7 linked regions of the Homo sapiens genome follow. The protein of the gene in region 1 interacts with the protein of each later gene in a biochemical or structural test. Each region holds a gene or a part of one and is shown on either strand. Other genes may lie near its edges. The genes, in order: MFHAS1, CHGB, CEP85, PMM1, ANKRD13D, COPB2 and CCDC149.

What was found.
Region 2: the proteins of MFHAS1 (region 1) and CHGB form a complex in vitro, tested with the Homo sapiens proteins (one large-scale study listed by BioGRID and IntAct).
Region 3: the proteins of MFHAS1 (region 1) and CEP85 form a complex in vitro, tested with the Homo sapiens proteins (one large-scale study listed by BioGRID and IntAct).
Region 4: the proteins of MFHAS1 (region 1) and PMM1 form a complex in vitro, tested with the Homo sapiens proteins (one large-scale study listed by BioGRID and IntAct).
Region 5: the proteins of MFHAS1 (region 1) and ANKRD13D form a complex in vitro, tested with the Homo sapiens proteins (one large-scale study listed by BioGRID and IntAct).
Region 6: the proteins of MFHAS1 (region 1) and COPB2 form a complex in vitro, tested with the Homo sapiens proteins (one large-scale study listed by BioGRID and IntAct).
Region 7: the proteins of MFHAS1 (region 1) and CCDC149 form a complex in vitro, tested with the Homo sapiens proteins (one large-scale study listed by BioGRID and IntAct).

What each region holds. Positions count from the first base shown.
Region 1 is NC_000008.11:8,883,631-8,887,130, reverse strand, and holds part of MFHAS1 (malignant fibrous histiocytoma-amplified sequence 1), read left to right. Parts: intron 1-3,500. UniProt on the Homo sapiens protein: Probable GTP-binding protein. Functions in innate immunity and more specifically the inflammatory response as a regulator of the Toll-like receptor TLR2 and TLR4 signaling pathways.
Region 2 is NC_000020.11:5,914,510-5,918,009, forward strand, and holds part of CHGB (secretogranin-1 precursor), read left to right. Parts: intron 1-1,816; coding exon 1,817-1,863; intron 1,864-2,316; coding exon 2,317-2,410; intron 2,411-3,500. UniProt on the Homo sapiens protein: Secretogranin-1 is a neuroendocrine secretory granule protein, which may be the precursor for other biologically active peptides.
Region 3 is NC_000001.11:26,275,700-26,279,199, forward strand, and holds the end of CEP85 (centrosomal protein of 85 kDa), read left to right. Parts: intron 1-835; coding exon 836-1,061; intron 1,062-1,433; coding exon of another isoform or gene 1,434-1,436; coding exon 1,437-1,594; 3' UTR 1,595-3,109; downstream 3,110-3,500. UniProt on the Homo sapiens protein: Acts as a regulator of centriole duplication through a direct interaction with STIL, a key factor involved in the early steps of centriole formation.
Region 4 is NC_000022.11:41,587,041-41,590,967, forward strand, and holds the start of PMM1 (phosphomannomutase 1), read right to left. Parts: upstream 2,801-3,927; 5' UTR 2,766-2,800; coding exon 2,679-2,765; intron 2,124-2,678; coding exon of another isoform or gene 2,012-2,123; intron 1,728-2,011; coding exon of another isoform or gene 1,619-1,727; intron 1-1,618. UniProt on the Homo sapiens protein: Involved in the synthesis of the GDP-mannose and dolichol-phosphate-mannose required for a number of critical mannosyl transfer reactions. In addition, may be responsible for the degradation of glucose-1,6-bisphosphate in ischemic brain.
Region 5 is NC_000011.10:67,288,067-67,292,102, reverse strand, and holds the start of ANKRD13D (ankyrin repeat domain-containing protein 13D), read right to left. Parts: upstream 2,801-4,036; 5' UTR 2,643-2,800; coding exon 2,553-2,642; intron 2,438-2,552; exon of another isoform or gene 2,026-2,437; coding exon 1,890-2,025; intron 1,796-1,889; exon of another isoform or gene 1,782-1,795; coding exon 1,657-1,781; intron 628-1,656; coding exon 582-627; intron 501-581; coding exon 357-500; intron 113-356; coding exon 1-112. UniProt on the Homo sapiens protein: Ubiquitin-binding protein that specifically recognizes and binds 'Lys-63'-linked ubiquitin. Does not bind 'Lys-48'-linked ubiquitin.
Region 6 is NC_000003.12:139,369,148-139,372,647, reverse strand, and holds part of COPB2 (coatomer subunit beta'), read left to right. Parts: intron 1-814; coding exon 815-925; intron 926-3,103; coding exon 3,104-3,192; intron 3,193-3,280; coding exon 3,281-3,387; intron 3,388-3,500. UniProt on the Homo sapiens protein: The coatomer is a cytosolic protein complex that binds to dilysine motifs and reversibly associates with Golgi non-clathrin-coated vesicles, which further mediate biosynthetic protein transport from the ER, via the Golgi up to the trans Golgi network.
Region 7 is NC_000004.12:24,906,543-24,910,042, reverse strand, and holds part of CCDC149 (coiled-coil domain-containing protein 149), read left to right. Parts: intron 1-3,500.

The sequences.
Region 1 (3,500 bases):
TTTTGAGATGGAGTCTTGCTCTGTTGCCCAGGCTGGAGTGCAGTGGAGTGATCTTGACTCACTGCAACCTCTGCCTCCTGGATTCAAGCGATTCTCCTGCCTCAGCCTCCCAAGTAGCTGGAATTAGAGGCATGCGCCACCACACCTGGCTAATTTTTGTATTTTTAGTAGAGGCGGGGGTTTCGCCAGGTTGGCCAGGCTGGTCTTGAACTCCTGACCTCAGATGATCCACCCACCTCAGTCTCGCAAAGTGCTGGGATTATAAGCGTGAGCCACTAGGCTTGGCCACCTTTGTCTTTTTAAGAAGTCATTTTGCTTCTGGGGACATTAAAAATTGTTTACTTTTATGTTTTATAAAAGCGTTAAGTTGTCCTATAAACTATAACAATTTTATATGCAACGCTGAAAAAGTTGGACTTTGAATTTTCTTAACTTTGGGATGTTACAGTAAAAGTAAATAGTAAATTACTGTCTCTCTTGATTTTATACAGAAAAAATGTATAAAGTTGCACTAATATCTTTTAAAGTATTTTTATGTGAAAAGCCTATTTTGGCCTTGTCCTGTTGGATTTTCTGGCCTGAGCTGCCCTACTGTAGTTGACCACGGGAAGTATAATGGTAAATTTCTCTTTTCTTATTTTGGTTTATACAAGAAAAGTAATGGGCAGCGTGCAGTGGCTCAGGGCTGTAATCCCTTTGCTTTGGGAGGCTGAGGCAGGAGGATCACTTGGGTCAAGGAGTTCGAGACCAGCCTGAGTAATGTAGCCAGACTCCGTGTCTACAAAAAAAAATAAAAAATAAAAATCAGCTAAGCGTGCACACTTGTGGTCCCAGCTAGTTGGGGGGCTGAGGTGGGACAATCACTTGAGCATGGGAGTTTGAGGTTGCAGTGAACTATGATTGTGCCATTGCACTCTGACCCTGTCTCTTAAAAAAAAAAAAAGAAATGATTGGAAAATGCACATCCAGCAATCACTAGTTTCATAGTTTTTTGTAAAAATAAATCACATTGTCAGAGAGAAGACCTATTTGTCTTATTTAAAATAGGTAATCTGACAACGTGATTATCTTTTTAAGACATCTTATTTAAGACAAATGGGTTGAGTGACAGGAGATTCTTTTGGAAACTCGGAGATGGCCTATGATGAAGCCTAAATGTCACTGTGAAAGTCTTGACCTGCTTTCTCCATCCTGGCCAACATCCTAGCCTGGTCAACCTGGTGAAACCCCATCTCTACAAAAAATACAAAAAAATTAGCTGGGCATGGTGGCTCATGCCTGTAATCCCAGCTCCTGGGAAGAATGAGGCACGAGAATCCCTTGAACTTGGGAGGCGGAGGTTGCAGTGAGCTGAGATTGTGCCACTGCGCTCCAGCCTGGGCGACAGGGCAAGACCCTGGCTCCGAAAAGAAAGTCTTTACCTGCTTCCTGCAGGTACCCTTTCTTTTTTGCAGACTTGCTGCCCATAGCTGGTAGCCAGGATTCCCTTCCTTTTGCTGTTTTCCTTCTCATTGGTTGGTCCTGTATACTTGTCTTAGAGCAAGTTTCTTCTTGTGGGATATTTGTTTATGCTTTTATTCTGTTCTACCAGTATGACCTCTAAACTCAAAGAGTTGGTACTCTTGAAGTTGAGTGAGGGTACATTAAGATGTGGTGGTTAGGACACGGGCCTGCAGCAAGATTCAAGTGCTTTGATATTCCTTTTAAGCAGATGAGTGAATACTGTGTTTTTGAATTGGAAGAGTGTGTCTTAGTGAGTTAAACTTGCATTGACTGCAGATTTTCACTAAATATCCTACTCTCCAAATTATTTAAGGTCATTTTAAAAAATAAGGAGAAAGCAACCCAAATCAGTAGACAGAATGAGTTATGTGGCTTTCTTTAGCTTTACTGTCTTTCATTTACTCAGTAACTTGATGCCTTTTTGTATCTCATGCCAAATGTCTTCTGTCCCTCAGTTTCTTGCACACGGAGTGTACCTCTCCGACAACACAGCATATTTGACTTGTTTTGTTGGTGTTTGGTTGCGTCATGATATATCTTTGATTAGGTTGTTCACTTGCTGCTTCTGAGCCAGAGACACACCCGAGACTTAGTAGCTTCTGCAGAGCCTCTCAGATGTTTGCTGAATGATAGTTTGGTCTTTTTGTGAGAAATAACTTTTTTTTTGGGGGGGTGGGGGCAGGGTCTCACTCTGTCACCGAGGTTGGAATGCATTGGGGCAATAATGGCTTACTGCAGCCTCGACCTCTTGGGCTCAGGTGATGATCCTCCTACTTCAGCCTCCTGAGTAGCTGGGACTCCAGAAACACCCTACCATGCCTGGCTAATTTTTGTGTTGTTTTGTAGAGACAGGGTTTCGCTGTGTTGCTCAGGCTGGTCTCAAAGTCTGCCTGCCTCAGCCTTCCAAAGTGCTGGGATTATAGGCTTGAGCCACCATGCCCTGCCTGAGAACTATCTCTTTTTCTTTGTTATTCACACACTCAGTGAAAATCCCAGGTAGTATTGTAATGATTATCTGGCTTTGTTTAGCTTCCCAACTCCCTCCCCCTCACAGTGTTCCTCCAGCATTCCCATTGTGCGTCTATGACTGGTCTTACCCTTGAATGGGTCCTTCATTTTGACCACTGAAGCAAAGCAAAATTCTTGCCTTATTATATCTAAGTTTTAGAATTACTGGAATTTGAGCATGACCTAGTTGTTTGGATTGAATTAGTCATTGTTTTTAATTTTACAAAGGTTTTTCAATATCTCTTTGGTTAAGCTTTATTAATATTGATGCTTCTTGGCTTTTCTTTTTATGAATAGGCCTCTGAACTCCCTGGGACTTTGTTTTATGTAAAAATCAAAACCTTAATCAGGCACTAGGATAAACAAATACTGTGCAGAATAGAGTTCTAGAAGGCTAGAAAGGCCTTTGGAGTATTTGAATTATTTTAAATATTAGGTGCCTCTTCTTTAAACCCTGGAATAGACTCTTAAGTCCATCTCTGCACAAGTAGTTTAGAATTTCCTAAAGTATTTTTTCTTTAATTTTTTTTTTCTTTTTGTGTGTGTGTGTGTGTGTGTGTGTGTGTGTGTGTGTGTGTTTGTGAAATAGAGATAGGGCCTTTTTATGTTGCCCAAGCTGGTCTTGATCTCCTGGCCTCAAATGGTCCTCCCCACTCAGCCTCCCAAAATGTTGGGATTAGAGGCGTGAGCCACCATACCCAACCAGTATTTTTTATTTAGTGGATATTTTATGTCATACTCTGAGGTTATTCCCCTTTGTCCGTGAAGAGGTGAGGGGCTTTAACTCTGTATTATAGGAGGGGAATGAGTGGGGAAAGGAGGAATTGGACATTTCTGTTTTTCTTCTCATCTACCTATTAACTTGCTTCTATCCATGGGAGCCCTTTCTTTTTTTTTTTTTTTTTTTTTTTTGAGACTGAGTCTCGCTCTGTTGCCCAGGCTGGAGTGTAGTGGCGCTGTCTGAGCTCATTGCAACCTCCACCTCCTGG
Region 2 (3,500 bases), on another chromosome or scaffold:
TAAAAAAAAAGGGAAAGTATTAGCAAGAAACTGCATTATCAAGAAGGCTTAGTAAAGCTGCATTTTTTAAAAGTCATCTGATTTATTAGGGGAGTTATTCTCTCGCAGTCATTTATTTGCAGAAGATATTACAGATTTCCAGCGGAAAGAGAAAGTGCTGAAATGGGTGTGTTCTCAAGTAGCCATTTGGAGGATGAAAGAACAGTTGAGTATATTGGACCTTGGGTACCAAAAGTGGGCCAACTGGATCTTGCCTGATAAGCATTTCAGGAGGAACTTGGGGTCTTCATAGCATAACTTTGGGCTTCTTGAAACAGTTGAAGTGATCCCAGATCATGCTTTGAAAAGAAAAATTTGGTAAAGTAAGTAAATGAATAGGTGTTTTATTTCCAGGTTGAGCCCCATGATATGTAATTGATAGGGGGTGGGGAATGTTTAAAGAGGCTTAGAGCAAAGCATTTTGCAAGGAAAGGTCAGGTTGCTGCATTTGAATAGCTTTCATGTCTGATGTCTGAGAACTTGCCCCAGCTAGCTCTACTCTCTTCTCAGGGACTTAGAAGAATTTTCTGCACTAGCGTCTCCTGCTCAGTTGCCTGCTACAGGAATGCCAGGAGAACTGTAGAGATGGACTTACATGTAAATGCTTTGGGCTGTTCTAATAGAAAGGGCTTAGAACAAAGTCAAAGTGAAAAAAGAATCAAAGCAGCTTTGAGACAGAAAAAAAATGGCACTGAAAAATTAAAATTACCTGAAGCATTTTTGAAGAAGACAAAGCAACTTCAAACACTGTTTTAAGATAGGCGGAATCCCATGAAATTTTATTGAAATAAATTAAAATTTTTCTTTTAAAATATTCTTATAAACCAATGGTTAAACACCAATTTGCATAAAATATTATGGACTTGATGCTGTACTAGGAGGGTTAGATATCTGCCATGTTCTTTACATGGTTGCAAACAGTGTGGAGAAAGAGAAACACAATGTTGATACGGATGCATAAACGAGCTTGTTCAGGCAAAGGCCTTGCGGGTGAAAAATGAGGTAATTAATTATGGAAGACATCCATAACCATGTTTTTGTCAAGGAAGTAAGTTTTGGGAGGATATATTTTTGGAAACAGAGATACGGAGAGAGAGCCACAGATCTTTACCTATTTGGGGTAGGCAGAGAAGGACCAAGGAGGGCATTCTTGTTTTATTAGACTTAGTTTGGTTTAAACTTTTTTTTTTTTGAGACGGAGTCTGGCCCTGTCACCCAGGCTGGAGTACAGTGGCACGATCATGGCTCACTGCAACCTCCGCCTCCTGGGTTCAAGCAATTCTCCTGCCTCAGCCTCCCAGGTAGCTGGCGCGTGCCACCACGCCTGGCTAATTTTTTGTAGTTTTAGTAGAGACAGGGTTTTGTCATGTTAGCCAGGTTGGTCTCGATCTCCTGACCTTGTGATCCACCAGCCTTGGCCTCCCAAAGTGCTGGGATTACAAGCATGAGCCACCGCACCCAGCCCTAGCTTAAACTTTTAATTGAAATAAAATATATAGAAAATGGAACAGATCATGAGTATACAGCTTAATACGCACACCTGTGTAACCAGCACTGAGATTAAAAAATGGGACATTTCTGGTTCCCCAGAAGTCCCCTCCTTGTCTGTGGTCTAGATTTGATTTATACCGGATCTAAAATAGCATTTGTTTCCAAATATATTTAAGACATTGCCAGGGGAAAAACAACAACTAATGTGGGGTGATTTTGTCAGTTGGGGTCACACAGCTTTCAAAAACCAACTCAAGTCATTTTCCATTCTTTTTCTCCTTCAAAGCTGTCAATTCCATGCCAGTGGATAACAGGAACCACAATGAAGGAATGGTAAGTTGCAATGTCAATCTTAGAATCTAGACTTGTGTCTAGACTCTAGATTCTCCCAGTCCCTATTATACCAAACCAAACACACGCATGACATAATCTTACAAAGCCAGGTTTTCATTGCTGACAGAATGTGAGCAAGGGATGCCCCTCCTGCACTGAGCTCCTATGTCCTGTCAGGATGGTTTAGCACCCCTGAGGATAGCTGTGCCATTGGTTCAGAAATGGGTGTTTATTTCCCTTCTCCAGATAATCCCAACTCAGTGCCTTCTTGCATTATTCTGTGTAGAAGTTTGGAAGATTTCATTCTGTTCCTGTAAATCTGTATCTCCGCCCTAAGAATACTGCATCAGCCCAGGTCACGTAATCAAGTCTTCCTTGACAGCAGCTCTGGGTTGAGTAGTCTGTCATCCAGTGATACCAGCTTCTCCAACCTGCTTTCGGGTTTCCCCCCAGGTGACTCGCTGCATCATTGAGGTCCTCTCAAATGCCTTGTCGAAGTCCAGCGCTCCACCCATCACCCCTGAGTGCCGCCAAGTCCTGAAGACGAGTAAGTGTCCCACACGGCAGGCAGATCTTGGTCACTGCAGTGATCCTTGTTCCTACTCCCTCCACATCACCTTCTACTTTATCTACAAATGACCTGGGGGCATAATGCACTAGGAAGAGTATTGATTGACTAGGCCAGTATCTGGGAGACAGAAGATATGACTCCTAGTTCCTGCTTTACCACTTCGCAGCTGTGTGACTATAGGAAAGACAGTTTGCCTCTCTTTTCCTCAAAGTAAAATGAAGGAGTTGAACTCAGTGATAGTCTTTCAGATGTCTATCCGTTCTTAAATTCCTTAGTTCCATACTTTGGATTTTTAGAACCGGACTTCCTTTGGGTGGAGGGGGTTTGGGAAATGCTGGTTTGTGATTAGATGAGGAGGGGGGTTATGGAAGTGTTGGACAATGACAGAGGGAGATTTAAAAATCATTCTTCTCTTTGCCTTTTGCTCTTCTGACAGTGAGAATCAGGAAGCTGAGAAGCAAGAAACTTAGAAAGGTGACTTAAAATTCTGGCCTATTTACACAACAAATTAGCTAAGATATTTTAATGTATAGCTTACTAGAATAGAAGGTGCCACCAAATGGTACCAGGAGTTCCAGGCCTGAGAACTGGAAGGGTTTCAGGTAGAGGCAGTGCATTCCAGTGAGGCAGACTAATGGCTTTCTGAGTCCAGCCTGTGAAGTGTTCTCAATATGAAACCATTTCTGCTGAAAATAAAATTTGAACAGTAATATAAGCAGTACCCATTGGAAATTGACATTATGAGGTCAATTTTACAAAACTATGCAGTCTCTGTTATGCATGAAGCCACACTGATTCAAACAAATCCAGAAAACACTGCCCTCTTCAACACTGTCCTCTGCTTTTAAACTTTTAGTCAGGCTGGGAACAGTAGATTTTATCTTATTTTTTCACCTTTAAAAATCTTTCAGGTGGGCATAGTGGCTCACACCTGTAATCCCAGCACTTTGGGAGGCCGAGGCAGGTGGATCACCTGAGGTCAGCAGTTTGAGACCAGCCTGGCCAACATGGTGAAACCCTGTCTCTACTAAAAATACAAAAAAAAAAAAAAAAAATTAGCCAGGCA
Region 3 (3,500 bases), on another chromosome or scaffold:
ACAGAGCTGTCAGCAGGGGGCAACCAAGTTCACTGACTGGCCTAGTGCCTAGGAAGGAACCTCCTTGAGTTAGGATTGTCACATGGCCCAGTGTGGGTGGAGGGCCTGGGACTGAAGGACGGACTCTATTCAGACTCTATAAAAATACAATCAAGGTAGGAAGGGAAGGAAAGTGGATTAAGCTGTCAGGAAGAGAGGGAAACAGACAGACATACATGAATAGATGGTTTTTGTAATAAAGTCTGACTCCACTGAGGTGAGAGTTTGAAAAGGCAGGACTTGTTCCAGGGCTGGATCCTCCAGGTTCCAGCTTCTCCAGCCCCCCACCTAGTGGCTACTAGCTGTCATATTGTCTTTCTTACTCTCTTTATTCCTCTGACACACTGTGATCAGGCTGGCTGGTGGCCACTTTTGTCAGGGTGGCAGGGAGAGATTGAAACCAGTGTCTCCTCAGATTTCACGGTTCACATTAAGCCTTCTCTAATAGCCTGGCTAACAGAGTTGGCTGAGGGACTGGCTTGAGATAGAGTTCCTAGGGGCGGGAGCATCTTCTCTGGTTCTTGAACAGAAACTTGGATGCTGATGATTCAGAACCAGTTGAGGGTTGGCTTCCTCTCCAGTGCTAGAGCCCTGTGGGCCCAACCTACCCACAGGAAGAACCAGGCCTGATACTGATAGTGGGAGAAGTGCTAAAAGCCTGTTGGCAGGGGTAGGGTTGGGGAAGGAGGGACACTGCCTATGACTCACCCATCCCTTCCACACCCACACACTCATGCACAGATACTCTTCCTCTCCCTGGGCCTGAGTTAATGTGCTTACCCATCTGTCTGCTCAGCTTTCAGTGCAAAACCAGGACTTGATTGAGAAGAATCTGACACTCCAGGAACACCTGCGCCAGGCCCAACCAGGGTCTCCACCTTCACCAGACACGGCCCAGCTGGCACTTGAGCTGCACCAGGAGTTGGCCAGTTGCCTTCAAGATCTGCAGGCTGTCTGTAGCATTGTGACCCAGAGGGCCCAGGGCCATGACCCCAATCTCTCCCTGCTCCTGGGCATTCACTGTGAGTCCTCAGACCAGTCTGGGGCCCAGGAAGGAGGGTCCTTCTTTCTCTTCTCTCCCCCATCCTGCTTTCCCATATTCTTGTGGTAATATGTAGACAGAGTACATAGTCCTGGCCACTGCCCTCTGGACATTTATTTGTTTCACAAAGTAGGTGTTCACAAATCTGTTTTTGGAAACAAGCTATGGGGTACTTGCATGCAGGACAAACTAAAAGTGGACCTTCAGCAGCAAATTAACCCACTGTCCCCAGATGCTTTTTTTAAAGTGCATGTCCCAAGACTGTGGGTTCAAGATACTGCCTATCCATACTGCACCCTCCACATGAAAATGTCTCATAACTAACATTCTCTTGAAATGCTCTTCTCCCCAGCAGCACAGCACCCAGAGACTCAGCTAGATTTGCAGAAGCCAGATGTGATCAAGAGGAAACTAGAAGAGGTTCAACAGCTGCGTCGTGACATTGAGGACTTAAGGACCACCATGTCAGACAGATATGCCCAGGACATGGGAGAAAACTGTGTCACACAGTGAGGAATTCTGGGGGATTCCCCCAGGGAGGAGCTGGGCTGCTGAGAGCCTAGTCCAGCAGGTTTCTGCCCTGACATTCTCTTGTCTGCTATTCCCAGAGAGGTCTCAGAGGGGAGGGGAGAGCCTGCATCTGGGGGCCAAGGGCTGATTAGGGAACTGTGTCCTACCCACACTGGCATGTTGGATTACGTTTGTCCTGTTAATTCACTCTAGACGGTGAGTTACTAATTAACTTTTGGCAGGTACAACAGATAAGTCCTCACAAACTGTTCCCAGCCCTAGGCTGACATGAGAGACGAACAGGCTGTCCACCTTTCTTCTCCATCCAATGGGATGGATCCATGTTCATTCCCACTTCACACCTTGGTCCTGCTGATTAGAGAGCTCATCAGAGGGGCCTGGAAAGGCTGAGCAAGTACCAGTGACAATGGCCATTTAAGAATTCTCAGGCCCCATGTGCCAGCCTTCTTGGGAACTGAGCTGGCTTTCTGGGTTTTCTCATGCCTGGTCTTACTGCTTCTTCCTCAGGGCTCTTGTTCTCCCAGAAGCCTCAGGGTAATGTGTTGGTTAGCACGTAACTACTAGGATTGGGGCCCTAGGGATTATAGCCAGGACTCTAATCTGCCTACCATGCCATTTAACAAGAGATCCCACTCTCCAGCTGCCTTGTGTCCCTAGGGTCCTGGCCATGTGTTTAGTGTGCTAAACTTTCTCCTTTGTTCTCAGGCCTTCCAGGTAGTCCCCTTCCTGGACTTAAGAGTGCAAACTCTTCTCTGTGGTTCTAGCCTTGGGCAGAATTATATCCCAGAGACCACAGAGCAACTGTCAAGCTGCTTACCCCCTCACCCAGGGCTACAGCCTGTGCCCAGCCCTCTAATTTGTGCCTCTCTTGTGTTGGGGGTGGTGGGGGTTATTCCTTTCCCTTTCCTGCTCTGGCCTCCTTGAAAGTTCAGAGTACCCAGTACAAGTCAGCTTTAAAGTACAGCTTTTAGTGTTTCCTGGGTTGTTTCTCTGGGGCTTTAGTGAGGGACCTTTGCCCTCTGGTTTTTCTTGCCTCCTGGTTTAGGGAGCATCTCACACTTGTTAGTATCTGGTTGTTGGGCCAGCCGTGCCTCCTCTAGATCTGGAGCCAGGCCAGGCAGGGGCCACGTGTGGGCCAGTCAGCCACTACAAGATTTTTGCTAAGCTTTGGGCTGTTGGCAGCATCTTGGACCTCATGCCTGGGCCTGAATGAGGCTCTTTCTTAAGTGTTTTTACAAGTTTGTGTTTTATTTATGGAGTGACTTATCCCTTCCATTCAGAGCAGCCCCACCCAGCCAGCCCTTCAGCCTCTGGGCTCCTGCTGCTTAAAGGCAGAGCCGCCTGGTTGGTCTCCACCCTGTGCATTGGGAGCCCAGCCACCATGCTGACGGGTATTTTTCCTCATAAAGTTTATAACCAGTTATTTATATGAATCTTTGTTATGTCCATTTGTTTGTATTGCGTATTTTGATTATAAAATAAAGTATCTTAACAGACTCCTCAGTTTTCCATACCCTTCCATCACCACCACCACGCTATTCTACCCCTCACTTTGGCTTGTTAGAGCCAAACACCTGGGTGTTCAGCCAGGTCCCCCAGGCAGCAGCGTGGAGGAACCTTTGGCAGGTCCAGCCAGCCTCATGTCCCTATCTATCTCTGCCACCTCTGCTCCTCTGTCGTTCTATAGAACCAGATCTCTTCCCACTCACTTTCTCTTGGGCAAACCTTCCCTGAGTCATAACAGAAGTTTGTCACTGGAAAGTTTCAGCAGTCCTCTCAGGAAGTTGGCAGCCTCTGGGTTGCTGTGAGGAAGTGGCTTTACCAGAGCAAGGGTTGTCTTTCTGGGCTGTTAACCTGCCTGAGCCCTGGACCAGGGGGACATCTGAGA
Region 4 (3,927 bases), on another chromosome or scaffold:
GTGGATCACAAGGTCAGGGGATTGAGACCATCCTGGCTAACATGGTGAAACCCTGTCTCTACTAAAAAATACAAAAAAATTAGCCGGGCGTGGTGGCACGCGCCTGTAGTCCCAGCTACTCGGGAGGGCTGAGGCAGGAGAATGGCGTGAACTTGGGAGGCAGAGCTTGCAGTGAGCTGAGATCACGCCACTGCACTCCAGCCTGGGCGACAGAGCGAGACTCCGTCTCAAAAAAAAAAAGAAAAAAAAATTAGCTGGGCGTGGTGGCAAGCGCCTGTAATCCCAGCTACTCAGGAGGCTGAGGCAGGAGAATCCCTTGAACCCGGGAGGTGGAGGTTGCAGTGAACCGAGATCATGCCATCGCACTCCAGCCTGGGGGACAAGAATGAGATTTCATCTCCAAAAAAAAAAAAAAAAAAAGATATTAGCCAGGCATGGTGGCACTTGCCTGTAGTCCCAGCTACCAGCTACTCCAGAAGCTGAGGCGGGAGAATCACTTGAGCCCAGGAGTTCGAGGCTGCAGTGAGCTGTGATAGCGCCACTGCACTCCAGACTGAGTGACAGAGTGAGACCCCGGTCTCTAACAACAACAACAACAAAATAGCATCACAATCAAGTTGATTTTTGAGGAGCCAAAGAACAATAACAAAAATAGCCTCACAAAACAATGCTTAATATTTGCTCTGGGCAAATAGATCCAGATAAAGGCCTGGAGGGAAGCCACACCACAGTAACCACATTAACTTGGGGAGCCGGCCAGGCTCCCCAAGTGCGGTCAGAGTGGACTTTACCCTTCTCTGTTACGTTTCCATTCTTTACCAGGAGAGTGTGCTCATGAAAATGTGTACGATTAAAAATTAACTTTCAAAAGGCACTAAGCACAGAGGCTGGCCCGTAGACAAATTAATAGGCTGTTCTTATTCAGGTTGTTATGTTTGTGGAGCAAAAGGTCAGAGGGAGGAGTCAGAACTGTGCCTAGGCCCTGCCACTTTTGTTCCAGTTCTTTTATTCATTTATTTGTTTGTTTGAGACGGAGTTTCACTCTTGTTGCCCAGGCTGGAGTGCAATGGCACAATCTTGGCTCACTGCAACCTCCACCTCCTGGGTTCAATCGATTCTCCTGCCTCTGCCTCCCCAGTAGCTGGGACTACAGGCACACGACACCACGCCCATCTACTTTTTGTTTTGTTTTGTTTTGAGACTGAGTCTCCCTCTGTCGCCCAGGCTGTAGTGCAATGGCACATTCTCGGCTCACTGCAACTTCTGCCTCTCGGGTTCAAGTGATTCTCCTGCCTCAGCCTCCCGACTAGCTAGGATTACAGGTGCATGCCACCACGCCTGGCTAATTTTTTGTATTTTTAGTAGAGATAGGGTTTCACGATATTGGTCAGGCTGGTCTTAAACTCCTGACATCGTGATCTGTCTGCCTCGGCCTCCCAAAGTGCTGGGATTACAGGCGTGAGCCACTGAACCCAGCCTAATTTTTGTATTTTTAGTAGAGACGGGGTTTCACCATGTTAGCCAGACTGATCTAGAATTCCTGACCTCAGGTGATCTGCCCACCATGGCCTCCCAAAGTGCTGGGATTACAGGCGTGACCCACAAGCAAATGGCCCACCTTTGCTCCAGTCCTGCTATCTTCCTCCCGGATCCACCCCTGCAGGAAGGCCTCCAGGGCCCAAGCCAGGGCAACTTCACCACAGAGGATGGGGAGGGGCATTCGGGACCTAAGAGAGGAGGCTAAGACCTGGGTTCCCATCAGCCACTGCCCAGTAAAGCCCATCCCACTGCTCCCCCACGCTAGGAGACCTGTTGGTTGGTCCTTGAGGCCCCCAGACTGGAGGGTGGGTTACCCACAGGGAGGGCATGAATGAAGCCTGCTTACTGATGCATCCAGCTGGTGAGGGGGCTTTTGGGGACTCACTCACAATGAGACCCAATGGGAGAAAAACTGAGCAGAGGTAAGAGGCTCAACACAGCGAGAGTCTTTAGAAGAAAACTAGACTCTTACCCTCACTATTCCTCAGTGTCCTCACAGCAAACAGGCTAGGCCTGGAGCCTCTCACATCCGGGTGGGTAGAGCTCATAAACGAATTTGAAAAGAAGCCCTCTCTGCTCCACGACTGGGGGTGGAAGGTAAAGTGGGTGATGGGGCTTCAGAAACTAGACCCAGTCCCAGGCCTGCAAAGGTCGGGGTGGGAAGACTCCGAGACGCCCTGTCTCCCACCAGATGATGACTGACGCTTGGCTGTGTGCTTGTGTGCCTGGAACCCCGGTTCAGAAGCCAGCTCCGACCACTGGTGTGTCGTAGGGCTGAACTAGGGTGGGATCCCCAGCTCAGGAGGCGGGGGCGTCCGTGAGCCAGGCCTTAGCGGCGTGTGACAGCCTCCGGGGAGGGAGGGAGCTAGGCCCCTGCTCGCAGCCTCCTCCCTCCAGTACTGGATCCAACCCCAGCACTCCCAAGCAGAACACAGGCAAGGACGCTGCGGGGTCAGTGACGTGAGGGCCAGGTCCCCTCACTCCCGGTGGGTGGCCCCGGATGTCAGGGGGCCGGGTACCGCCGCATCCCACACTCGGTCCCCGGGTGTCCACGGTCACGCTGCTGCAGACCCCACACTCAGCCTCGGGGGTGTCCGCGTGACACTCCCGGTGGGAGCTTCCAATCTTCAGGGTCCTACCTGGCGAGCCGGCGTGAGGGTCCCGTCCACGTCAAACAGGCAGAGGACGCGCTCCTTCCTGCGGGCTGCCTGGGCGGTGACTGCCATGGCTGCAGGTCCGCGCGCGGGGCGGAGTCCCGAAGATGCAACGGCAGAAGCAGCTCAGGGATAAGTGCTGACGGGGCGGGGCATTAGGGGGCGGGGGCCAGTGGACTGCCTGATTGGCCAAATGAAGAAGGGGCGTGGTCTAGGCGGGCGGAAGCGGGGGCGGGGCCTGAGCTGATTCTCATTGCTCGTGGAGGAGGGGAGCGCGGCATAGGGCGGAGCGGAGCCCTCCAGGTTCGATTGGATTGCTCCAAACAAGGCGGAGGAGGGGCCTGAGCCTGGGACCCGCAGGAAGTGAGAGGGTGAACCCGGAAGACAGGGGCGGGGCCAGAATTGGCGGGTTGATAGTGATTGCAACAGGCCGATTAAGGGGCTGGGTCGGGCGGGGCCTCTACCATGCAGTGCAGTGTCTAGTGGGCCAGGCGGGACTAAGAGAGCCGAGGTCGCTCCCCATCCACTCTCACAAGGTTTGTGGCCATCTCTTTGCCTTACAAATTTTGAGCTGTAGGAAATCTCCTGAGCCGGGCGCGGTGGTTCACGCCTGTAATCCCAGCAGTTTGGGACGTCGAGGCGGGCGGATCACCGGAGGTCGGGAGTTCGAGACCAGCCTGACCAACATGGAGAAACCTCGTCTCTACTAAAAATACAAAATTAGCCAGGCGTGGTGGCGCATGCCTGTAATCTCAGCTACTCAGGAGGCTGAGGCAGGAGAATCGCTTGATTCCAAAGAAGCCAGAGGTTGCGGTGAGCCGAGATCGCGCCATTGCACTCCAGCCTCAAAAAAAAAAAAAAAAAAAAAAAAGGAAAGAAAAGAAAAGAAAAGAAATCTCCTGAAGGCCTTTGTTCAGGCTTTGGACTTTGCCAAATTGCCTTCCCCGAGCCTTATTCCTTCTGTCCACACATAAGACCCAGCTCTCAGGGTCTACCTGCTTGGAGACCTTCCCAGATTCTTCTTTTTTTTTTTTTTTTTTGAGACAGAGTCTCGCTCTGCCCAGGCTGGAGTGCAGTGGCGGGATCTCTGCCCACTGCAACCTCCACCTCCCAGGTTCAAGCGGTTCTCATGCCTCAGCCTCCCGAGTAGCTGGGACTGCAGGCGTGTGCCACCATGCCCACCTAATTTTTGTATTTTTACTTACTTTTATGTTTATTTTATTTTATTTTTGAC
Region 5 (4,036 bases), on another chromosome or scaffold:
CTGGGCCGCATGGCGGCCAGCAGTGTTTCGGGCTCCTGCAGAGTGAGCCCCAGTGTCTCCACATGCACCACCTGCCGGTCATGGTCCACTTCCATCACCAGGGCTCCTGCCTCTGCCGGCCGGTAGGGGTGGACAGAGGGGGCGCAAATCAGTGCTGGGCGCCAGCAGTGCAGAGAGGGCGATCATGTACCCTCAGCCACCTGCTGCCAAGTGGGTCAGTCTTGGCCCCTGGATGCCCCTCCATCCCCAACCTCAGCTTCCACATCTGGAAAGTGGAGAGAAAAGGCAGCACCGTCCTCCCAAGCCGCAGGAAACCCAAGGGCCGAGGAGCTGCAATGAGTTTGTCCAGAGCTCACCCTGGCCCTTGAAGATGAAGCTCCTCCGGCCCCGCTGCCAGGTCATGTGCTCGAAGCCCAGGAGACTGGTGTCTACTCGCAGGCTCTCACCCCGCTTCCACACGCGGTACACATCGCTTGGGCACATCTTAGACACAAGGGGCACTGCAGGGTGCACAGGGGTCACTGGGGGTCTTTCCAAAGGCCCCACCCCAAATCCCTGGGAGCCCAGAGGTCCCCACTCACCCCAGCTGGTGAACTCCCACTTCATCTCAACGTAGAAATCGGGGGCCTAAGAGAAACCAGAGCTGCTTGTCAGCGCCCTGCCTGCTGCTGGCTCCAGCAGGCCTGGGAGCCCCTTGTCCACAGCCAGCCCAGCCCTTCATCAGGTCTTTTTTTTTTTTTTTTTTTTTTTTGAGACTTGCTCTGTCACCCAGGCTGGAGTGTAGTGGTGCAATCTCGGCTCACTGCAACCTCTGCCTCCCTGGGCTCAGGTGATTCTTCCACCTCAGCCTCCCGAGTAGCTGGGACCACAGGTGTGTGCCACCACTCCCAGCTAATTTTTGTACTTTTTGTAGAGACGGCTTTCACCATGTTGCCCAGGCTGGTCTCCACCTCCTGGGCTCAAGTGATCCGCCCACTTTGGCCTCAGAAAGCGCTGGGATTACAGGAGTAAGCCACAACGCCTGGCCCTTCATCAAGTCTTGACGCACTGCTATGGCTCAGCTACGCCCAACCACTCTGCCCTGGAGAGGGTGGGCCAAGTGGGGCACTACAGTGGTCTTCAGACAATGAGGCTGTAAGCACCTGGAGGTGGAGGGCCAGCCTCAACCTGGCCATGAGCCTGTGCAGAGCCCTGGGGGAGCCTTTGTTTCCACTGGGTCTCAGAGTCCTACTCTGTAAAGGGGGCACAGTGGCTCCCTCCGAGCCTGCTCCTGGGGTAGGGGGTATGAGATAGTATGCTCTGCCAGCCAGGCCCCTCCGTGTGCTTCCAGAAGGGTGCGTAGTAGCAAGTATTCCAGGGTTTCAGGCCATAATCCACCGAGTCAACCTGAAGTCCCTGCTCCAGGTAATCTGCATTCTTCAGGAGGCCCAAAGCTGGCAAGGCTTCTCTTCCAAAGGGTCCAGTCTCTCCCACGTGAGCCTGGCCGTCTCTCTTTCCTACGTGACCCTGGGCTGGGGTCAAGATAGACAGACCTCCTTGCTGGTGGCAGGAGGCACACTGCACAAACTGGGTGCCTTTCCAAGGCCAGGCCTGGCACAGTAACCAGGGTGGTGCCCTGCCATGGTACCCCACCTCCATAACTGTGCCCTGCTGTACCTGGCGAAGTTTGTTGAGCAGTTCCGGAATGCCCGCCAGCCTCTGCGTGGCCCTCTGGTAGTCCCGATACTGGAGCACCAGCTGCACCATCTCGGGGTCTCCAGTGCTGACTGCCTCCTGCAGGACTGCGGGCACCAGGCTGCTGAGGGGAGCCCTCCAGATGACCCCAGGCCTGGCTGCTCACTGCCCCCCGCCTGCCAGCCTCAGGGGGAGCCCCTTGTCCTCTGCAGTACCTGCCCAGCCCTGGCGGTTCTCTTTGCCCACGTTGGCATTGTGTCGAAGGAGCACTCTCACAGACTCCAGGTTTCCCAGAGACACGGCCAGCTCCAGTGGGGTCCGCCCGCGGGGGTCCTCCTGTTCAATGTCGTGCTGGGGGAGACGGGACACTCACAAAGGGCAGGAGAGAAGAGGGCAAGGCAGGGAGGCTGCCAGGGCGAGCAGGGTTGGGAATCGCTGTGGGAAATAAGGACGGCGGACTGACCAGGGAGATGGCAGAGGGTGGCCTGCGTGTCCTGGCAGGGGAGAGGAGGGGGCAGGAGGGAAGGCAGGGGCAGAGCCGGGGTCTGGCGGCGGGGCCTGGTCAGGCAGAGCTGCAGGTTGTCAGGAGTTTGGCGGAACCTGGGGACCAGGACCAGAGTTCTTGTTCTCAGCTTGGGTCAGCAAGGATGCGGAAGCGAGTTCGGGCGAGCAGGGCAAGGCCCAGCGCAGGGGAGAGGAGGCCAGAGGCTCAGGCGCGAGGGGCCGGTGACCTGGGCTTGGGATCGTGCAGGGGAGGAAGGCCCAGGATGTGGCTGCGGAGCTGAGCGGGCGGGGGGGGGGGGGGGGCTCCAGGACGGAGGCCACAGCCTTGGGTGGGGGACCCGGGGGAAGGGCCGGGTGCCCCAGCGGGGCCTCACCTGGTGGCTGTGCAGTGCGGCCTCCAGTTCGCGATGCCGGTTCGCCCAGACGAGCCGGTGCAGCGGGAAGGTGGGGCCCGGGCCGGCCATGCTGGGCCTCAGCGCCGCATCCCGGCCCCGCCTCGGCTTCGGGCCTGGCACGGCCCCCTAGCCTCCCCTCCGAGCCGCGCCCCAGCTGCGCCCCCCGCGGCCCCCGCAGCAGTAGCGGCGGCGGCGGCGGCGGCGGCAGCGCGGGCGGCAGGGAGGGCGGGGCGGGCGGCGGAGCGGGCGGGGCTGCGCCGGGCCGGGGCGGGGCTTCGCGCGCGCCCCCGTCCCCCCGCAACCATGGCAACCGCGGCCAGGCCAGCGCGCGGCAGAGCAACCGCGAGCGCCCGAGGAGATGCCCGGCCTTGGGTCTGCGCCCCGACCTCGGTCGGGCCCGGGTCCGCTGGGGCGGCCTGGAGGGCGGTGCCCGGTTACAGCTCCGCCCGCGGCCCGCAGGAGGCGCCCCGAGCCCTGCGCAGACCCCCGGAGCCGGGTCCGGAAGAGGAAGGCGGGGCCGGAGGGGGCGGGCACTGGGCCCCTCGGTAGTGCACGCGCGTGCGCGGCGGGCCGCGGTCCTGCTGCAGCCGTGATGCCTGCGTTTCCCCCGCGGATCCCCTTGCTCGCCCCGGTCTTCCTACCCCAGGTCCCGCGGTCACCGACTCTGCTGGGGTGTGCGGGTGAAGTGGGGCGCCCCGGCTCCCCTCACCCGGCCTGGAGACGAGCAACGAGCAGACGCCACTAAGTGCTTGCCGGCTGAGCGGGAAGCACCTTCCCCTGGGACCTGGCCGGTGTCTGCAGGCCCAGCGATGCGGGGAGGCGGCCCCCGGGGCCCTGAAGTCAGGGATAGGAGTTCGGGGAGAGAGGGGCGCAGGCCCAGGCAGCGGCAGAGCCGTCCCGGCGGAGGACCGCCCGCGGCGAACGGCTGCCTTCGCCCGCCGCACGAGTCCCTTTTGCAGAGGCTGCGGTTGGCTGCCAGCGTCAGGAGAGGAAGGCGAGTTTCGAAATCAGGGCCGGCCCCTCCACCCACACCGGAACTAGGGTGCAGGCCTCCGTCAGCTCAGTTCCGGCCCTTGATTACTGGAGGCCCAGCCTGGGGTCTGGGGCCCTGGTTTTGCTAGGTGGCCAAGGCTGACCCTCTATTCTCCCTTTCCCTACGTGGAACATGATTGAGGAGGGCCAGCTAGCTTGAGCATCACTTCCTGCTGTAGGGCGTCCTCAGTTCTGAGACTCTGGGCTGGAAGGCCTGATTGCCATTTTTACCCTGCCTTCTCCCTGTAGTCACATGGCGCCTGTGCCATCTGGGGTCACTTTGCCACCCCACGCTATGGTGTCAATCTGTGAGGTCCTGGGGTTGGTAGCAGCCCGAAGGCTTCTGAATGCCCAGAGCTCACCTGCTCACCACTACTGCAGCCCTCCCTGGCCACCCCTTTTCTCAGAGGCGGTCCCTTCCCTGAGCCCTC
Region 6 (3,500 bases), on another chromosome or scaffold:
GCAGGTCTGGGCATCTTATAATGCTGTGCTGAGTATTGAAAAAGACAAAAGATATAAACCAAGTATGCCGCCTAGTTCAGTAAATGGTATCCATAATTATTTGTAATATAATTGTCTTATAAAGGTTAAGAATGCATTATGCATATTTCCCTTAATATCGTAAAACATTCTTGGCTGTAAGTTTTGCCTTTGGCAGTCTTTTGATACCAGCCTTTACAGTGTTATAAACAACTTTAAAGATAGTTGTCTTATGTCCATTGGGAAAATTTTCGTTGACTCTGCAGCATTCTGTTTTCTCATTATTTAAATGTTAAAATATCCTCTGTATTTTGCTGAATTTAAGTCTTTAAAACCTGGAGTGAGATATTTTTATTCATTTGAATGATCAGCTTTAAAATGAAGATAGTCTTTGTAATAATATAGTGCCTTCCTGTGGTATAAATGTCATGAGCAAAGTTCTAGGCATCTTGGTGCTCAACAAATACTGGTTGAATAATTGGAATCCTCCTCCTTTGCATTTCCAGCCATTCTCACCTTCCTGCCTCCAGTTGCCTTTATTTATGAGAAGACCATTCCAATAACATTTCAGCAGTAATGCCATATTCATAATTTCCTTTTCAATTTGTTGGCTAGAATTTTTTTTGTAACTTTGTATTCAAAGAAATGTATAACTTTTAAAAGATGTTAAATTGTAATAATGAACTAAATAACATTTGTTATTAGAATTCTTTTACCATAACATGAATTATTGTTCCTTAACTTCTACATGTCTTTGGTCCTCTGTACTTCCCTCCCTGGCTTCTGTGATTTCTAGGTTTGTGGTGGTGTGTGGTGATGGGGAGTATATCATCTACACAGCAATGGCATTGAGAAACAAGAGCTTTGGATCTGCTCAGGAGTTTGCATGGGCCCACGATTCTTCAGAGTAAGTTTTGATTGTATGATAGCCAGCATGCCCTGATTGCAGATGTGTTGTGTGCTGCTTGAAGACTCTCAAGGCTTGATGTGGGCTGTGATTCTCCGTGTTAAAAAACAGTTCTCACCAGAGCTGTCCATTGGAAGATGAGAGTCAGAGGCGAGTGTATAGCATGAGCCGTCTTAGTGCTTTCTTTGTTCTGCGTTAGGCTGGCTCACTCAAGCTGATACAATAATTCCATTTAACTGGGGACCCAGCACCCATTTCTTTGATGGAGCCCATGGCAGGACCTGGTGCTTTATGGGCTTAAGGCACAGTAGACCCTCATGTCTGCCTTGGCAGGCCTTGGCATGCCCTCCCTGTGATGTAGTGTCCTGAGGTGCTACTGCCCCTTTATGAGCTACTTGGGAGTGATGTTGTGGTTTGATCATTTTGATGAGAAATTTATTAAATCTTTTTTAAAACTTATTTTCTGTGATAGTACCCACTGCCCATTCTTAACAAATTTCTGTCTGAATTCAGAATGTTCATAAAATGTTCTCATTAAAAGCAGGAAAGATCATTTAACTCTGACTTTTTTACTAGTCATTGGCTCTGGTTCCTTTTTGATTCCTGTTTAATGCACGTAATAAACATTAGGGGTTTAGTGTTTTCAGACCACACAACTGAATTACATTTTCACAGTTTTTTTAGTTTTGTTTGCCCCACATTTTATGTTGCATCTTGCCCCCAACAGTGGGGTAACTTAAGCCTCAGCGTTGTGTAATAAGATACATTTTTTAAAATGTTACAACAGTAAGATTTATTGAGAGGTATGGAATTGTTCTGATATTTTCATAAATTTCCTAAATACACATATACATACAGTTCTATGTATTCAAAGGTAATGTGTTATCTTAAGCAAAATTATAGTTGATGAATTGCCTTCTCTCAGCACACCTCTTCCTCTATTTTGATAGTCCTTTTTTTCAGCTCTATCCAGCCAAGACCTTGCTCAGCATCTTTCCTGTCCTGAGCAAAGCCCTCATCACATCACTTCCTCAGACAATCTTAAATATCCAGTGATAGCCACAGCTCCTTTTTTCAAGGCAGAGGCCTGAATATAAGCAGTTGTTGCTGATGATGGCTGATTAATGAACCATTTGTCACAGTTTTTATTATTTAAATCGCCCTTATTGAGGTATAATTTACAGAAGACAGAATGTACCACTTAATTGTACAGCGATCCCCCGATCTGTGGTTTCCCTTCCTGCAGTTTTAGTTACCCACAGTCAACTGTGTTCCAAAAATATTAAGTGGAAAAGTCCAGAAATAAACAACTCATAAGTTTTAAATTGCCCAGTGTTCTGAGTTGCATGGTGAAATCTTGAGCCATCCTACCTGGGACGTGAATCATCGCTTTGTCTAGCATATCCACATTGTATATGCTGCCCACCTCTTACATTATAGGAAAAAACATAGTGTATATAGGGTTCAGTACTATCTGAGGTTTCAGGCATCCATTGGGGCTTAGAACGTATCCCCCATGGATAAGGGAGGACTACTGTTCATGTCAGTAGATTTGGGCAAATGTATGTAATCCGTAACTACTAACACAATCAAATTATAGAACATTTCTATCATCCCCGCAAAATCCCCTTGTCTCCATTAACAGTCTGTCCATACCCCCCATCCACCCATTCCCCAGTCCCAGGCAAACACTGATGAGTGCCTTTTGTCACTATATAGATTAGAGTTGTCTTTGGAGTTTCATATAAATGGAATCATACAGTATGTACTCTTGAGTCCAGCATCTTTTGTTCAGTATAATGTTTTTGAGATTCATCCATATTCTTGCCTGGATCAGTAATTGGTTTCTTTATTTGCAGAGTAGCATTCCATTATATGAATATACGATAATTTGTTTAATCATTCACCTATTGTGGACATTTGGGTCATTTTCAGTTTCTAAAGTGGTTTGTAAGCCCTAGTAATTCATGTCATACACAGTATAAAACCCTTTCATCATTTGTCCAACTGTAAGGAGTTCTCTGATCTCTTAGGAAAACAGTACATCAGATAATCTTCAAATATTTATTTTATATTTTTGCATAATTACTGAAAAATATTTGAAGATATTTCCAACATTTGGTAGAACTATGATTTAGTATATAACATGTTATGTTTGCCTTCCCTTTTTTCTCCCAGGTATGCAATAAGAGAGAGCAACAGCATTGTAAAGATATTTAAGAACTTTAAGGAAAAAAAATCATTTAAACCAGATTTTGGAGCAGAAAGTGAGTGTGATCTACATATGATACATTTTTAAATTCTTTGTAATGGCTCAAAAATGCCTAAGCAAAACTCTTTTTATGTTCCCTTTAGGTATCTACGGCGGCTTCTTATTGGGAGTCAGATCTGTAAATGGCTTAGCCTTCTATGACTGGGACAATACAGAACTCATACGAAGAATTGAAATTCAGCCCAAACATGTGAGTTTCCCCTCCATTGTTGTTTTTGGAATATTTATTTTTGTGATGAGTTCTGGGTCCCTAAGGCCAAGAAGTGTCTTTTGTACCCTGCTCTCCCTCTTCGATTATCAAAA
Region 7 (3,500 bases), on another chromosome or scaffold:
AATACACTCCTGTTGTTTTAAGCCACCCCGTTTATGATCATTTGTTACAGCAATGTATTAGTCCGTTTTCATGCTGCTTATAAAGACATACCTGAGACTGGGTGATTTACAAAAGAAAGAGAGATTTCATGGGCCTGCTGTTCCACATGACTGGGGAGGCCTCACAATCATGCTGGAAGGCAAGGAGGAGCAAGTAACATCTTACATGGATGGCAGCAGGCAAGGAGGAGCAAGTAACATCTTACATGGATGGCAGCAGGCAAAGAGAGAGAGCTTCTGCAGGAGAACTCCTCTTTATAAAACCATCAGATCTCGTGAGACTTATTCACTATCACGAGAACATTATGGAGGAAACTAGCCCCATGATTCAATTATCTCCCACCAGGTCCCTCCCACAACATGTGGGAGTTATGGGAATGCAATTCAAGGTGAGATTTGAGTGGGGACACAGAGCCAAACCATATCAAGCAGCCACAAGAAACTAATACACCTACTGCTGAAAAGTGCCTGGGGTTGCAGCCCCCTGATCTGCCTTTCTTACAAGCTGAGCTGCCCAGGTAATTCCCCTGCCCAGTCAAGTTTGGCTGGCAGGGGTTCCATGGGTGTGACTGGGTCTGGTACCAGACAGGTAAGATTCAGGGAAGAGTGTGCTCAGCAGCTGTGGTGTTACGAAATGGTTTGGGGACCTGGCAGAAGGACCTGTGGAAGACATCACTGCACAGCTAATCTGGACTACATGGGATTTTCGTGGGCTTGCATTTATTTCTGCAGAAGTCCTGGGTGCTGTCTCCCACCCTGGATCCCCTCTCCATCACCTGCCCAGAGCCCCGTCCTCTCTTTCAATCAGTTGCTTCCTCCACTTGCCTCTAGGAAGCAGTTTTCATTTAAAACAATCCTACAGAGGTCAGTTTTATTTTCATATATTTGGTATAATAAGCTGAAATTACAGCCTTCTTTCAGGCCTGGAAGTAAACACACCCATGCGTGTGAAAGAAGCATGACCAGGGTTCTGTTTTGGAAATTAAATGTCTGGGGAGGGGCAGATATTCTTATCGCCACCTGAGGTGAGCTTTCAAGATTGGAGACATCTCAAAGTACAGGTATGCAGGCAATCAATAACTTTTTATTTCCAAGATAAAAATCCTGGTCATCGCTCAGCCCACCACTCTATGATAAACTATACATAATTCCATTTCACTATTTGAATTTTGGTTAATTAGATAGCAATCAATCTCCTATTCCTTGAGCATGTTGTATGCAGGGGCCAGGAGGCAGAAGACAGTTAACCATGGGCCTCCGCCCAAAGTAGAGACTGATTTTTGGTTTTTGTCGTTGTTGTTTTAGAGATGAGGTCTCACTCTGTTGCCCATGCTGGAGTACAGTGGTGCGATCATGGCTCACTTCAGCCTCCATCTCCTGGGCCCAAGGGATTCTCCTGCTTCAGCCTCCTGAGTAGCTGGAGTTACAGGCACGTGCCACCATGCCCAGCCAATTTTTTTTTTTTTTTTTTTGTAGAGATAGAGTCTTGCTATGTTGCCCAGGCTGATCTTGAGCTCCTGGCTTCAAGGAATCCTGCCTCAGCCTCCCAAAGTGATGGGATTATAGGCATGAGCCACCGTGCCTGGCCTAGCCACTGATATTTGGAAAGGAGAGGTTGAGTAGGTATAGAGTCCAGCTCTGTGGTTAAGGTAAAGACCCAGCTTTGGGTTTCAGTTGTTGACTTAGACTCTGAAGATAATAAGAGACCTGGGGGGAAGTCTTGGCCCTGCCTTTCTCTTGGTACAAAAGATCAAAAACCCAAACCAAAGTGGATCAGCTTAGAGGCAATTTACTGGCTGATGTTGTAGGTTGTACTGTGTCCCCAAAACGATGTGTTCAAGTCCTAACACCCTCCCCTCAACTGCCACCACACAAACACCTGTGAATGTGACCTTATTTGGAAGTAGGGTCTTTGCAGATATAATCAAGTTATGATGAGGTCATCTTGGGTGGGCTCTAATCCAATGACCTGGTGTCCTTATCAGAAGAGGCAAATTTGGGCACAGAGATGCACAAAGAGAAGACAATGTGAAGACACAGACGGAAGAAGGCATGTGACAACAGAGGCAGAAACTGGAGTCATGCAGCTACAAGCCAAGGAAAGCCAAAGATTGCTGGTGACCACCGGAAACTAGGACGAGGCAAGGAAGAATCCTCCCTGAGAGCCTCACTGGGGAACACAGTCCTGCCAACACCTTAATTTTGGACTTCAAACCTCCAGGACTGTGCAACAGTTGAATTCTGTTGTTTTAAGTCCCCCAGTTTGTGATAATTTGTTATGGCAGCCCTTGGAAGTGACTATAACCAACATGACTAGTAATTCCATGCTAGGGCTGGCTTTTGGCTGATTCACCACTCAGACAGTTTCTCTCCATCTTTGAGTCTGCTTGCTGCCTGGCTTTAGTCTAAGCCTCCCATCCTTTCAAGTTCAAGTCCAGAGGGGAAGACAGACCCTTCTCTAGCAGATCCTGTGAAACCCTGGGATGCTCCATTTAAATCCACTTAGATCACTCACCTAAACTGCAAGAAATCGCTCAGGCAGGTAGTGATCTGATTGTTTTAGGCCTGGAGTTGTGTTCAGAGCCCTGCTGCATGACACGTGGACTGTGAGTGGAGCTAGGGTAGATCCCCAAGTAAAATTGGGGGGCTTCTTTTCGAAGAGGGAGAATGGATGTTGAGGGAATGACTGCACCATGTAACTTCTCTGACCCTCATTTTTCTCGTCTTTAAATAGGGTAGTAAAAGTACCTACCTCATAGGTGATCCTAATTGTGAGGATCAAATGAAATAATAATGCTTATGAGTGCATAGGCCTCTGCCGGGCAAGGCAGCAGTGGAACAGTGAGCATGAACCTCACGACAGAAACTCTGGTGTGTGAAAACTATAATTTGCTATAATGCCTTAATTTTGATTACAAGTTTTTGTTGTTTGAGTAGTGGAAATGTAATCTGCATATGAAGCCACACCACTCCCTTTCCCTGAATTTGTATTTAAATTCTAAGGGACTTAACGAAATACTAAGACTAAGGCTAAGTCATTGGCTGGGGTGCTGGGGTGGGCTGTTTTTGTCTACCCACACTCTCCTAATTTAGTCTAGTATCTTGCCCTTGGTCACTCTAGGTCACTGTTGTGTCCTCCCTCATCCCCCCTCAGGTGTCCTCTGGCCCTCTGGCTGTCTGCACCACATCCATGCTACTTTTGGATGAATGAAGAACAAATTGATGAACTGCTTTTCACTGTTCTGGGCATGGTGAACTTTGCTGTCTTGCCCAAGGTGGGGCAAGTTTTATTCATTTTTAAAATTTGGCCGGGCACGGTGGCCCATGTCTATAATCCCAGGACTTTGGGAGGCTGAGGCAGGCGTATCACCCGAGATCAGGAGTTCAAGACCAGCCCGGCCAACATGGCAAAACCTCGTCTCTACTAAAAATGCAAAAATCAGCTGGGCGTAGTGGATGTG